Homo sapiens: one gene and its partner. Each later gene encodes a partner of the first gene's protein in a complex. Links are inferred from orthologs where the notes say so. Each region holds a gene or a part of one and is shown on either strand. Other genes may lie near its edges.

Evidence for each region.
Region 2: the proteins of ATP6V1A (region 1) and ATP6V1D are in contact, whole or in part, in a cryo-EM structure (PDB 9B8P), measured with the Rattus norvegicus proteins. The link is inferred for Homo sapiens from one-to-one orthologs. Residues at the interface, in NP_001101788.1 of Rattus norvegicus: Ala366, Met368, Pro369, Ala370, Asp371, Ser372, Asp416, Ser418, Asp436, Lys438, Glu491, Gln494, Leu495, Val496; in NP_955418.1 of Rattus norvegicus: Lys4, Asp5, Arg6, Arg167, Ala171, Val175, Ile176, Arg179, Tyr186, Glu190, Arg194, Glu197, Tyr200, Arg201, Lys204, Ile205, Lys208.

What each region holds. Positions count from the first base shown.
Region 1 is NC_000003.12:113,749,866-113,757,145, forward strand, and holds part of ATP6V1A (V-type proton ATPase catalytic subunit A), read left to right. Parts: intron 1-7,280. UniProt on the Homo sapiens protein: Catalytic subunit of the V1 complex of vacuolar(H+)-ATPase (V-ATPase), a multisubunit enzyme composed of a peripheral complex (V1) that hydrolyzes ATP and a membrane integral complex (V0) that translocates protons.
Region 2 is NC_000014.9:67,356,554-67,364,408, forward strand, and holds the start of ATP6V1D (V-type proton ATPase subunit D), read right to left. Parts: upstream 3,252-7,855; 5' UTR 3,146-3,251; coding exon 3,105-3,145; intron 1-3,104. UniProt on the Homo sapiens protein: Subunit of the V1 complex of vacuolar(H+)-ATPase (V-ATPase), a multisubunit enzyme composed of a peripheral complex (V1) that hydrolyzes ATP and a membrane integral complex (V0) that translocates protons.

The DNA of each region.
Region 1 (7,280 bases):
ACCTTCCAAATTCATGGTCAATACAATAGATAAAAACCTCAGATGGACTTTATTAATGCTGAGACCAACTTATTTTCACAGCATGTTTGTTTACTAATAAGTATGGTTATCATCAAAATATGGGAGAGAAGGGAAGAGGAATGAATCGTACTAAATGAAAAAGTGGCTCTGCGTGATCTATAAGTGGACTAGCACTAGACTAAAAGTCAGAGGATCTTCATTCAGCTCTGCCACTTTAGTTATATGTCCTTTTACGTAATGCTGGGGAGGGGTTCAGGTTTGATACTTAGGAACCTTCCTATGACATAAACCCTAGGTAATCTATGTGAAAATATCTTAAAAACTAAGTGGTGTCTGTAATCCCAGTGCTTTGGGAGGCCAAGGCGGGCAGATCACAACGTCAGGAGATCGAGACCATCCTGGCTAACACGGTGAAACCCTGTCTTTACTTAAAAAAATTAAAAAAATTAGCCAGGCATGGCGGCACGCGCCTGTAGTGCCAGCTACTCAGGAGGCTGAGGCAGGAGAATCACTTGAACCCGACAGGTGGAGGTTGCAGTGAGCCAAGATCACACCACTGCGCTCCAGCCTGGGCAACAGAGTGAGACTCCATCTCAAAAAAAACAAAAACAAAAACAAAAAAAACTAAGTGGTGTGTAAAATGGTAAAGCAGTGTAGCTCAGACTTTACATGAATTGATTTCCCAGTCATAGAGACCTAGTTGAAGTTCTGGCCCTACCACTTAATAACTGTGTGACTTTGGACAGTGTACTTAAGTAAGGTTAAGTTTTCTCACGTTTAAATCTATAGATGGTGCTATTAAGTTAGATCATGAATGTAAAATGCCTAGAACATATTTTGTAAAAAAAATTTTTAATTAATTTTACTGATAACTACTTTGATTTTATATACTGAATTTCTAAAGACTTAAGACAACCCACAGAATTGACTGATGTCCCTGTGAGCAGCAGGTTTGGGGCATGAAGAAGAGAGTAGAATTTGAAAAGAAGCTATTACCCAAAAAATGGGGGAACAAGAAAAGTGTACTTGTAGCAAAGATTCTAAAACAGATTTATTAATTTTATCTGAAAAATATCAAGATAAAGTCCCTTATTTGGGCAACTGCAGTGTCTTAATATTTTCTATATAAAGATTTTCCAAAGCTTGTAATCATTAATGTATGGAATAAATTTAAGGAGGCAGTTCTTCAATTTTGAAGTTTTTATTCCTGCAATGGATTATAGAAGTATATTAAAATTGTACAGATTGTAGAGCAGGGACTTTTGAGTTAATGCTTATAAGCTTAAAAATTTTGTCTTTTTAAAAAAATTAAGTGTTTTTATATCTTATTTTTATCCTTATATGAAATAGACAAAGAAATGTAGAGAACATAATGGAGACATAAACTAGAGTAAAATTCTTCCCTTCTTAAATTCATGATTCACAAGGGTTAGTAGTTTTGCAATGGAAAATATCAGCAAATTAAACAGTAAGTATAGCTATCATGAGTTTATGAATCACTTTATTCCTGAAAAAAAAAATTACTCATTTGTCTTAAGGAAAGATTTTATTAAGTTTATTGACTTTTCCTTAATGTTGATTGTCTATTATAACAAATGGATTTATTGATTTAGGAATGAATTTATTCTTTATACTAAGTAACTTTATTTTAAATAAATGAAATGTGAGCAATAAAAATGTTTTCCATATAATTTCTGAAGAGAATATTAGTTTTGCTATTCTCTTTTTTCCCTATGGTGAAATGATAGCGACTTTGGTTTTTATAAGTGTATTCATTTATATTTAGTATATACATATTATGTATATACTATATATAGAGTAAATATTTGTAGTATATAAAGTACGCAATGTGTGTGTATGTATATATAAAGACAGCTGAAGTGGTTGTGTATCTTCGTAGTAACATATTTATTTTTACCTGAAACTACTGAAGTGATCTTTAGAATAATGATTTATTTACATTTGAAACTCCTCTTTCTGTATATTTCTTTGTAGTTAGCTCTAGTTAATAAATTTACAACTGTGATTAGCTGTTTTTAAAAATTAATGGTATATCATAAGTATTTTCAGATTTAAATTTTAGAAGGAAACACTTTCTTATATCTTAAGGTTTTAAAAATCACTATTATTTTTGGTATTATTATGACTAACAACAAAAATTTCAGTTTTGGATCTTAATGCTATCTGTTGAAACTGTTCTCTTGGTAAGCCTTTAAAAAAATTTTATCTGCAACATGCCACATTTTGTTTCTTTTCTGAAAAATAATTAAGCTTATTTCACTGAAAATAAAATGGGTGGTATATGATATGATATAGAAGAGTTTCAGATGTGCTTGAGCAATGAAAAGCAACCAGACTTTATAAGTTTTTAGTTCTTAGTTTAATTTTTTTAATGTTTAAAGGTACAATAGAGAAGACTAATTGAATTGGAAAATACCTTTAAAATTGAAAAAAGAGCATATGTATAATAATAATAGTATATACATATGGAAAAAGTTGTAAGGAAATGCATCAAAATAAGTAATTATCTCTAGATTGATGCATTAAAGAAAAAATTAAAATTTATTACTATACCTTCTGTATATTTGAATTCATAATGTCAGTAGGCATTGCAAAATATTTCTTAATTTGATATGGAAAATTAAGGCACCTAAATAATTCTTTCATCTTAACTACTTGGATATCTTAAGTGAAAATGTTTTGTCTCATCCAGGTAGCTGAGTAAGTTATTTAATTTTATAGGTGTGTAAATATATTTTTAATTTTAAGTATATAAGTGCAGCAGAATTTTAAAAAGCAGAGTAAATCTCAGTATATAAGATAATTTACCACATTTCAAAGGGATAATTCAATCCAATGGTGAAAAAGGGCACATATATATCATAAATGTTAACTGATACAACTTGCTCATCTAGAAGAAAATATAATTGATCCAATACATTGCAACAGATGCAAAAACTGATTTCAGATGGATTAGAGGCTTAAATGTAAACAATAAAATATTTAAGATATTAATCTCCTAAATTTCCTTTATACAAACAATCCAGATGTAGTTTTTTAAACCAAGATAGGAAACCTAAAAGTCATAAAAGTATGGATAGACACATGAGACTGCATGGAAACGAAGGATTCTTTAGTGGCAAAAATAAAGGACCAAAGACAAAATCAGGCGGAAAAAAAGGCTTGAGATATATGTAACAGATGAGTTAACCATTGAAAGAACTCTTTCCAATTAAGAAAAAGTTCACCCAGTAAAAATATGGATAAAACATGTCACCAGAAGTTCACAGAAGAGAAATCCAAACATTCAACAAACAGTAAAGGATGTGTAACCTTACTAGTAATCAATATACTAACAATGAAATATTATTTCTCTGACAAGCAAAAATTAAGTGGTAAACCTACTGCTAGCAGGGATATGTGGAGAAGGATTATCTCATAAAATGCTAGCGGAGATGTGAAGTGTTAGAGTTTTTCCTAGTAAACAATCAAGCAACATCAGTTAATACTGAGAATACATGTATTTTCCACCCATCAGTCTAACTCCATGTAATCTTTTCCTTAGAAATAAAAGCACCAGTAAGAGTTTACAGGAGTGTTAGCTGCAACAGTGTTTCAATTTTCAATGTTAGTAGTGGCAAAAAACGTGGAAACAAAGGGAATGCCTGTTAATAGGGGTATTGTTATGTAAATTATGGCCGAGGCATTTTATGGAATGTTGTGAAGTGATTAAATGGTAGGAGTTAAATCTACTGGTGATTAGAAAGGATTTCCAAGTACATTCTGAAAGGATTTCTATCATGTGTCTTTTTTTTTTTTTTTTTCCTGAGACAGGATCTTGCTCTGTTACCCAGATTGGAGTGTACTGGTGCTGTCTTGGCTCACTGCAACTTCCTCCTCTTAGGTTTAAGCTATCCTCCCGCCTCAGCCTCCAGAGTAGCTGGGGCTACAGGTGTGCACCACCACACCTGGCTAATTTTTTGTATATTTGGTAGAGACGGGGTTTCACCTTATTGCCCAGGCCATCATGTATCTTAAGAAAAAAAAATACAAAGTACAGAGAAACATTTGTAATGATAACTCATTTTTTATAAAACCAGTTGAAAAACACCATGAGTTTTGTATATTTTTACCTGGTTGTCACCGTTGGAAAGAGGAAATAAGCAGAAAAGGAAAGAGACAGAATATCCATAGTAACATATTTATATAAAACTACATGTTTGTACATGTCTGTGTATATGATGGATTATGGGAAACAATGGGCACTAAGATGATTTACTTTCTTCCTTACACTTTACATTATATGTTTTTATTTTTACAGTGGACATGAAGTGTTTCTGTAATTAGGAAAAACAGGCTGGGCATGGTGGCTCACGCCTGTAATCCCAGCACTTTGGGAGGCTGAGGCAGGTAGATCGCTTGAGCCCGGTGTTGGAGACCATCCTGGGCAACATGGCAAGACCCCCCTCTACCAGTAAAAACTAAAAATTAAAAAAATTATTTGGGCACGATGGCATGCACCTGTAGTCCCAGCTACTCAAGAGGCTGAGGTGGGAGGATCACTTGATCCCGGGGCATTCAAGGTTTCAGTGAACTGCGAATGTGCCACTGCACTCCAGCCTGGGCGTCAGAGCGACACCCTGTCTCAAAAGTAAGAAAAAAAAAAAGAAAAGAAAAATGTACCAAAAAATGATAGGGACTACTAGATAGGATTACAAATTTGGCATGTTATTTTTGGTATGGATAGTCAGTGCTATCGACACGCTTTCTGCCTTAGAGTGTAGAGCACATTGCACAAGTGTGGGATCTGTCACCTGACTTAATCATATGACAGAATCATAAGAAAAGTCCCTATTTGGGTTTTGGCATATAAACTGGATTACAAGATTAACTTGCCTTAAGAAAACTTTAAACAAGAACTTCTTTAAAGAAGCAAAATAAAAAGTACTTATAATTGTTTAATACTTGATTTCTGTCCTTTTAAAAGTATCTCCGTAGAATACATCATTCAAAGCCTAGACAGAAAATAGCAGATGCTTTAGAGTTGGATTTGTTGCATACTTAAAGTAGCTGTATTTTTTTCTCACATTGGTATTACTTCCCCTTTTCATTACCAGTTTTATTAATTGCATATATGTGCTTTAATGTAAGCTGTCCAAAGTTTTTTTTACAAGAGTTGGGATATATGTAAATAAAAATAATTTTAGAGTAGTATTAATATAACAAAGAGATGAAGGAAACCAGACTGTGTGAGTCAAATCCTGGCTCTGCTTCCTAGTGGTGTGACTTTGGAGGAGTTACTTGTGTCTTTTTGCATTGCATTTTTCTCAACTTTAAAATAAGGATAATAAGAGTATTTAACTTCATTGGATGTTGTGAATAATAGAAGCGATTGGAATAATAACTAGCACATAAGGACCGTATATATATTTGCCAGCTGGGTGCAGTGGCTCACACCTGTAATCCCAGCACTTTGGGAGGCCGATGCAGGCGGATTGCTTGAGCCCAGGAATTGAAGGGCAACATGGCAAAACCATGTCTGTACAAAAAAAAAAAAAAAAAAAATTAGCCAGGCGTGGTGGCACACACATCTAGTTCCCGCTATTCGGGAGGCTGAGGTGGGAGGATTGCTTGAGCCTGGGAGGCAGAGGTTGCAGTGAGCTGAGATCGTGCCACTGCAGACCCTGGGTGACAGAGCCAGACCCTGTCTCAGAAAAATATATATGTAATAATAATATGTGCTATTATTTGCTCAGTCAATTAGGTGCAATATATAATAGTTTTACTTGGCTCAGTTGTTTTAACATTCATTTACTCATCCAACAATATTTTTAATTCAGTTGAATGGGTAATACATGTACAAATATGGTAAAATTTATATATTCATACAAGTGTGTTTTCTCTCCCCTCATCCTTATTCTTTTCTTCCCCCATATATTTATCCACAAATGGTAGCACCTCTTCGTATTATTCTGGACCTTACATTTTTCGCTTGAGTATTACGTTGGAGATCTTTTCACATTGATACAGTTAAAACTGCCTCATTCTTTTTAATGATAGTTTAGTATTCAATTGTATTAATATACCCTCATCATCATATGTAACATTTATTGAGAGCTTACTCCTGATCCAAATGCTTTCTTAATACTTTAGTTTTATTAACTCATGGAAGCCTCATAACAACCTATGAGATAGGCACTATTTTTCTATATTTAACAAATGAGGAAAACTAGGCACGGGATGATTAAATGTCCAACAGTCACACAGTTTATAAGTGGTAGGGCTCAGGATTAGAGCCCAGGGAGTCACTTTCCAGAGATTGCTGCCATAATACCGCTAAACATGTAGCCTGTCATAGTATTACAAGGTATTTAACCAGCCTCCATATTAATGGACATTCCAATCTTTTGCTTAAGAAACAGTGCTATAGTTAATATTTTGTTAATAGAACATTTTGTACATCTACAATAAATTCCTAGAAATGGACTAGCCATGTCAAAGGTAAGTACAATTTGAATTTTGGTGGGCACTGCCAAATTGCTCTCCAATTTAGGGATGTTCAGAAGTTCACCTTTGTCCTTAGTAATTTGCCAAAATCTGCCATTTAGCTTGGGTCTTTGGAAGGTGTGCTTTTAACATTTCTAGCATCCCTGAATTGTGTGTGATCTACCATCATGTAATAGCTTAAGTTACTATCATATGGAATTAATGTAACAATGTCAGTATGAGAGGTGTGACCTTTGGACTTACTACTTTCAAATAACAGTAAGTATTTTAGATATAACTTGAAATACTCCTTAATGTGATTTATACATTGAAATTCTATCAATCGAAGTTTGAATAGATATTGTTGAAAAAGTAAAATGCTGTAATTGTTAATAATTGTGAAGTTGCTGATTTTATGTACCAAAGCAATTATGTAAGAGTGTTCAAATAGTTAAATAGTGAATCAGATTGCATTTGAACATTAAGAGTGTGGTAGCTAGCTAAATAGAGGAATAGCTGGGTCCTTTCTTGTGAAAAGTGAGTTTTTGATAATCCGTGAGTCCTAGTCGTAGGTAATGCAAAATGAGGTAGCGAGGAGCTTTATTTAGATGAGTTATAAAATCCACAAATTATTTTGAATATAACACACTTGGTTTCAGTGCCCAATATTTCACTTGTTCAAGAAAGGAAAAAGTATCTCTATGAATCTAAGAAGCAGATTGACTGACACCAAACTCTTCAATGTGATCCAAAATAGACACTTAAAATACAGA
Region 2 (7,855 bases), on another chromosome or scaffold:
CATTAACTTAAAGATTAGAAAAATGAGGCTTAGAAAAGTAAAACAACTTTCTCAAAGTTACTCAGTGAAGAAAAGGCAGGGCAGGGACTTGAACCAGACTTTTGATTCCACTGACTTTCCCAATGCTCAAACTAAGGCTCCAACCTACGTTCACTGTACCCCAAACATGTGCCTCCCCTTAAAGAGAACAATTATCACTGGCTGACTCTGCACTGACTGGTCTCACAAGAGGTCTTATCAAGTGAAGGTCGTTTAGTTTCCAGCCTGAGAAGGAGCTATCCATCTCAATGTGTGCATTTAACATAATGTATTGTTGATAGTAAATACTAGAACTTGGGCTCAAAGAGCTGGATCAAATTTAAGTCAAATTGTAGTACTGCATATTCCAGCCAGTTTATAGTAAAAGGTAAACTGGTTGATAAAATTGAATTTACCATGTTAATTTTATTTTCCTCCTAGGGAATGGCATCTTTGTGAAATGGGCAATTTTAATTCCTGAAACTCTAAGAGCAGCGTGCACACTTACAGCTAATATGTAGCAGAACCTGGATTTAGTGGACTTCTGTTGACTCCAAATTTTTCATGCGTCTTTTACTTCCACTCTACAATTGTTTTTGCTTTCTCTGGTACGAAAGTGGGTGAAAGTAACATCACAGAATAATACTGTTGAATGGAAATGTCTGTGAAACAAGCTGCCAGTATATTTTCTAGCCTATGGCTTTTAAAACTTGCTCCTTTACATGTTTCAGAGCTGCTCAGTCCTACTCAAAAAGTTTGACCTTTAGCTAGGATGATGACTTTTCTTCCAGCTGAATCAAAGACATCTGACTACATGACAAAAAGCCTGCTGCCAGCCATGGGGAAAATATTTAGAGAAGAGATTATTTCCTGCACCTGATTTTCCTCTCAATCAGCAAGCTGAGAGCTTTCAAATAGTAGTTTCACCTTCATGAGCCTATCATTTTCTTACCTAAGCCCAAAGATGTCTATTTTTGCCTCTTAGTCTCAAAGTAAAAGTTTCAAAGTAAAAACAAAAAAGTTATTCTGACTGCTGTCAAAGATAAACCCAGCCAGACATTCGTTAAAGTAGTGAAAACAGATTTTATTCAGTAAACCACTGATAGTAGGGGAAAGGGCTGAGCTCAATTCTCATTTGTGCAGAGGTGACTGGCCATTTTAAAAAAGAGAGTAAGGGAGTGGCAGGGAGCCAGCCGCAAGAAGAGTCAGAGAAGAGAAACCTTAAAGTGTTGGTCAGTGTAAACGCCATACTACCTGGCAATTAGTAAGTTACTATTCTATCCTCTCACACAGACTGGGAGACAAAGCCCCTATCCCTCCTGATGATTACGTTTCAAAGAAATGGCTCTCAAAGATACTTGAAGGGACACTTCAGAGTTGGAAGAGATACATATTAACAATTGTAAGCCTGTTTCGTAAATGCTCTAAAAAGGGAACGAGAGGGGTCTATCAATTAGGTGTTGACTAGAACAAACAGTAAATTCTCCCCCTAGCTTTGAGCTTTTTCAGGCAGGCATTTTAATGGCGGGGGCGGCGGGGGGCGGCCTGGGGTCACCCTAGGGGCAGGCCTTACATTGCTAGAAGATAAACTAGTGTCGATGTCTTTCAGTGCAGAAGTTTTGACTGAGTCATCACGTCCTAGGAGTTCTGCAGTTGTCACTACCTCGGGATAGTCCTCATCTTTATTTCCCCACAACTAGCTTGCTGCCTACTTAGTGCAAACAGCTATTAGAAAGTCAACAGGTGAAGGTAAAAAATTTAAAAACTTCATTTCATTAAGAGCTATTTAGTCACCGGGCAGAAAGAAATCTGGGCTTCAGGTTTGAATATAACTTTTATTTTAAGCATCCTCAGATTCTCTCAAAGGACAGAATGAGGAAAAACAACAAAACACCCCCACAGAGATAGGACCACAATAAAAGGGTCTAAATGTCAGGGTCAAAACTGATTTTCTGCTTCCTCACTGAAAAGAAAAAGGGAAAGCCAGGCGCGGTGGCTCCCATCTATAATCTCAGCCGCCAGGGAGGCTGAGGCCGGAGGATCACTTGAGCCCAGGGGTTTGAGGCTGCTGTGAGCTCTGATCATACCACTGCACCCCAGCCTGGGAGACCCTGTCTCTTATTAAAACAAACAAACAACAAACTAAATAAAAATAAACAGGATGAGGAGGAGAAAGGGAGCAAGTTGTTAGGCACATTTGAGAAAACGTCAAAATTTTCCTTACAAACTAGCCAAACACCTACAGTGATATGCCATTTTCCTGACAAAGAATTCAGGCCCCAAAAGAAAGGCAGCCCACAACTGAGCGTATTCCCAAGCATGAGTTCTTTCAAGAAATATTTTTTTGTGGACCTTCTATGGATTAAGACACTCTTTCATCCTGGAGAGAGCCCACAGTCTAGTGGGAGAGAAAGACACATAAACAAATATCTACTTTACAGCGTGATGACCGGTATTAACACAGGTCTGAACAAGGTGCAGCGGTGAGAGAGCAAAAGCAGTGCCTCAGAAACACAGGGATATCCTCTCACAGCAGGTGACATTTGGCGGGATCTTGGAAAATGAGTAAGGGGATCCAAGATCGAATCCGAGGGCTATGCTAGGGCGATTCGATTCCATCCCCACTTTGGCTTAGGGACCTCTTCTATATCCTCAGTAAACTTCCCTTCTCAGAGCATTTATTAAAACCTCCTTGGCCTTTCCAGACGAATGTCTGGCTACGTAAACTGTGAGCTCTGTAGGGCAGAGGTGGCGACGGTTCAGTTATATAAATCCAGTGCCCGGCTCAATAAGGGTATGTGGAATGGATGAATCCATTAATGAATAAAGACAGCAGACCTCCACAAAAGCCCGCCGGCCGGGCGCCTTTTCCTACCGGCTGGGATCGCTTCGTCCAGCCTGATTCACTCAGGAGGAATGCGCGAAGAGGCCGTCAGGAAGCCTCGCCCTAGACTCAAGAAAAGAACCTGGGAAAAGCTCAGGATCCTCCCAGGAAACAAGGACCCTCACTGTGGCCCAGGGTCTGAAGGGACCGCGCTCCGGGTTCCTAAACCTGTGAAAGCGGCTTATCCCATTCCTTTACTTACATTCGCGAGGGAAAGATTTCAATTCGGTCTTTGCCCGACATTCTGACGATAACTTTTCGGCTCGGGTCCCCGGCCGGGCAACCGAGGCTGCAATAGCTCCAGAACTGGCCTCCACAGTGTCTTCCTCTACGGGAGTCAGCTGGTTGTGTCACTTGACCCCTCTTGTTGCTAAGAGGCAGCAGGGACACCCATTTTCACTTCCGCTTCCGGTTGTCACAGGCGACGAAGGGGGAGGACAGAACAGAGGCGTTGCCCGGATGTCGAGGCGCGCGCACCGCGGAACCACCCCTCAATTCCGGTTCGCCTCCCAACCCCTCCCCATCCAGCTTCCCTGCGGCTGCGCAATACGCGGCACGCGCCAGGCCAAAGACTAGGAGCGAAGCGTGCACGCCTTGTCTTTCTCCACCTTTCGTCTTTGGTCACAGCGCCATCTCATGGTTAGCTGAAACTTTGAAAGAGGATTCATTCTTCAGAGGCAAGGAATCGGAGTCCTATGTCTTTCTCGCGCCTTGAAGGTTACTTAGCTAAAGCTAAGATAGCGAGAAACAGTACTTTTCAGGTCCTTCCATGATCTACATTCGTCCTTGTTCTCGGAGGACCCAGACTCTATGGTTAATGATGAAGAGGGGCCTCTATTCGTTCAGCGCTTGCGCATGCGAGGAGGTTCCGCATGCGCGGTGGAGTGAGCGAAGCGCACGCTGAGGAGGATCGGCGGCCGGTGAGGGGGAAGCAAGTCTGGTCTCTGTGATTGAAGAAGTCGGCTCTGGGCTCCAGTGCGGGAATCACACACATACCTCAGGTGACTAATCCCAAGCTCGGTTTCTCCAGGAACTCACTTTGGTTTGTGTCCAGTGACATGGGTGTTCGAGAGCGGGTAGGCCCCGGGCTAATACCTCCCTTTCCCGTCCCTGCGCGGGAAGTGGCTGGACAGCACCGCCACCACCCGCGCTGTCGTGGGCCTCCTCGCCGGCTCCGTGTAGGTCATCCTGTGTTCCAGAGGCATCGTTGTTCGAGCAGAGGAATCTCGTGAAGGAAAGTGGGCCGAGTGGATTGTACAGCCTCTACAATATGCCGAAAGTGAGAATGCCATGACGATGGGGCGGTCTCAGGAGAACGCTGTGACACCGTAACTCTTAACCCCGGCTCAGGACGCTGAGCACTTTGCTTTTTCCAGGCTTGAGAATTCCATCTTTTCTTCCGCCCCAACAGCTCTACCAAAAATTTCCCCTGCGTCTCAGTGGAAACCAAACTGGCCTCTTACCTGAGAAACCTGTGGGACGGGCACCGTGTTGGAAAGAGCGGGGTCCGAGTAGTTTTTCATCTGATAATTGAATGAGTCACCCCTTGAACCAAAACTAAATGAGACTTGAGTTTATTACTGTTACTATCAGTTTGTCGTATTTTGGCGACAATGAGAATAGAACTGTGTTAAGCATATGTTAGGTTAACTATGTTAGTTAAGCATAACTAAAACCTAAGATAAGGATATATTTTCGGGTTAAATACACAGTCATGCTGAGGTCTCTTTATCCTCAAAACTTAGGCTTTTTAAATTTTTATTAAGCAAAAAACATGGTTTCTTCGAGAAAAAGTATAGCAGAGAAGTCTTTATTTCCCCTCAATTGAGTTGTTATTCAAGGAACAATCTCTGTCAATAGTTTGGGGGTGACTTGTACAGAACTTTGCTACCTATTCTTAGTTCATCTGGTGCCAAAAGATGTAGTTGTCTCATGCACAGTAATGTTTGTAGAGATTCGGTGATAACTTTCTTTTTCAACTATAATGATGAAATAAAAGCTTTACTTATGTAGCACTCCTATACCAAGAACTAGCATTCAGAGAGCATTCCTAATACGTGTTAGATCCAAATTAGAATTATCACGAGAGTTGTCCCCATCACATAATATATTTTGGAAAGGAATGTGAACTTCTATATCCATTATAGCAGTTTGACCATGCACTGTTTTGAGAAAGAAGTCCTACCTACCATTTGTCATGCAAAATAACTGACTATGCAGGGTATTTGAAATTAGCCTGGAGTTTGGTTGATATATTTTGAAAGGTGGCTGATACTTTTTACATCAGAACACATAAGAGTATTATAGCATGTTGTGATATTGAGGTTCTGTGGGTTAAAGACATTCTGGATTTGATGTCGGATTACTTGAGTTTAGCTCCTACGCTAGTACTTATTAAGCATTTGTTCTTAAGGAAGTATTATAATTTAGTATTTCTGTTCCACCTTTCCTGTTCATTGCTTCACTGTGCCCTTTCATAGTACTTTGTATTGTAATTATTTGCTTGCTAGTTTGTTTCCCACTCTATACTTAATTACTTAGGTAAGAGTCTTTTTTTTTTTTCTTTTTTCTTTTTTCTTTTTTTTTTTGAGACAGAGTCTCTGTTGCCCAGGCTGGAGTGTAGTGGCACGATCTCAGCTCACTGTAGCCTCTGCCCCTGGGTTCAAGGGATTCTCCTGCCTCAGCCACTATAGTAGTGGGATTACAGGTGCCTGCCACCACACCCAGCTAATTTTGGTATTTTTAGTAGAAATGGGGTTTCACCATGTTGACCAGGCTGGCCTCGAACTCCTGGTTTCAAGTGATCCACCCGCCTCGGCCTCCCAAAGTGCTGGGATTACAGGTGTGAGCCACTGCGCCTGGCCTGGTAAGAGTCTTTCTTGTTGTATCATTAGTGCTTAGTACATAGTAGCTACTGAAAAAAAAATTAACAAATTATTATATTACAAAATGGAAATACCTTCTTTTTCTTTCAATATTTTATGTTTGACTAGCACATAATGGTTTTCAAAATGTTTTTACGTATACATGTGATACCCTCAGTAAACCTGTGATGTACATGGCACAGATGAGAAACTACAGTTCAAAGGATGTTATCTTTCCCAAGCAGCCACTTCTAGTAAGTAGCAGAGCAAGGACTGGAACACAAGGCTAGAGTTGTTCCCCGAGTTTACTATGTTAATTGCCTGATTTGACACTTCTTGAGGACCAAATAAAATAAGAATGCTGTGAAAAAGATAAAGAGGTGAAGTCACCTAGTGTGACTTCGATATTGCGGAATGATTTTTTTAAGTTAAAAAAAAAATTTAAGTTATTAGCATTTCATTAGGCAATATGTTCAAAAATTGTCAACCAATATGCAGGTTTTTGTGGTATGGATTCTTTTTGTACTTAACTACTATCTATCTTTACTATGAATAACATACCATCAACAGTATTCCTTTACTTACCCTTTATGTTGCAAAGAGACTTGTGCCTCCTGAAGAAATAGTATTCATAGTCATATCCCTTCAGGATTCTCTTACATGATTGCCCATGTTTTTTAACCATCAAATTAAGCCTTGCTTCCCCTAAAAGCATCACCTTTACTGTTTGGAGAAGCTTGGTAAGTAAATGTGGTTTTCACTGGTCAAATGTCTTGCAACTGTTCCATACATTTCTGTAACATAGTTTATTTTTATGCCCAATTTGAAACTTTTTAGCTCTCAAATTTGAGAGCTTTACATACACATATTCAACAACAGTTTCCCCACCCCCACCCTCGAAAAGCCCTGTTTAAAAACGAAACAAACAGTCAGCTGTTTCTTGGTGGGTAAGGCCATTGAATGTCTACTTCTCTTTATTTGCTAAATCCCTATTTTGTAGGGATTTTGTATTCCCTACAAAGAAATACATCTCTGCTACTGTCATTAATATGCTGCTCTTTGTTGTCAAACAGATGAGTACTAATAGTTTGCACTTATTGGTGTTATGTACTCTGGCACTGAATATATATTAATGTTGCTTTTTAAGTAAAATGTTTCTAATTATAATATATTTATGAATAGTTTTGAGAGAATATAGTCTTACTGATAAGAGGACAGACTCTGGATCCAGACTTCATGGATTCAAATCCTGACTCATCACCTGTTAGCAGTATGTGAAAGAACAAGTAACTTAACCTGTGCTTCAGTTTTTTAATCTATAAAATGGGGAGAACTAGGGAGAAAGTTGTACCACAAGGAGATAGGCAATGGCCAGATCATATAGGATTCTGTAGGTAGTGGAAAGATACATAAGTCAGTGGGAAGCCACTGAGAAGATATAGGCAGGTGCCAATTAATAAGTTATTATATGAATTTTCACAAGGTTTTCTTAGGCCTTTAAGTTCTGTTACTACCTACGTTTTGAGCAGTGACAACAGTGAAGGTTAACAGAAAAACATGAAAATCATCAGCCATGATTAGTTTGAGAGCTTCCTTTTTTAAATATGCTTCTACCCAGGCTATGATTTCAGGCTTGTGGATCATAAAAGGAGTAGTGCTGAAAGTAGGTTGGGTGGATCAAAGGGAATAATTGTAAATATCTTTAATGCTTGGAGGTTAAGAGAAACTTGAACTTTGTAGTAATGGAGATTAAAGCTATTCTCAAGATTAGGTATACCTATTCAATAAAAGAAAGGAATATTTGGGAGTATTGGGGATAAGAGAAGCTAGACATTGTGAATTCAAGGAAAAAGAATTATGAGAGGAGGATGCATTTTAGTTTATTTTGTGATTAAAATTTTTTTAGTTTTTGTTGTTTTGACATGTGACACTGTAATTTTGGCTATAATAAATGACAGAATGTATCATTTGGTATATTGGTTAGGGTTTAGGTAGAAAATTTTTTCCTTTATATAGTGAGTGGTAGCGTATACAATGTTTGCTCACTTCGGCAAAGAGTAGCTTTAGTTTTCTGATTAGTTATAATAGT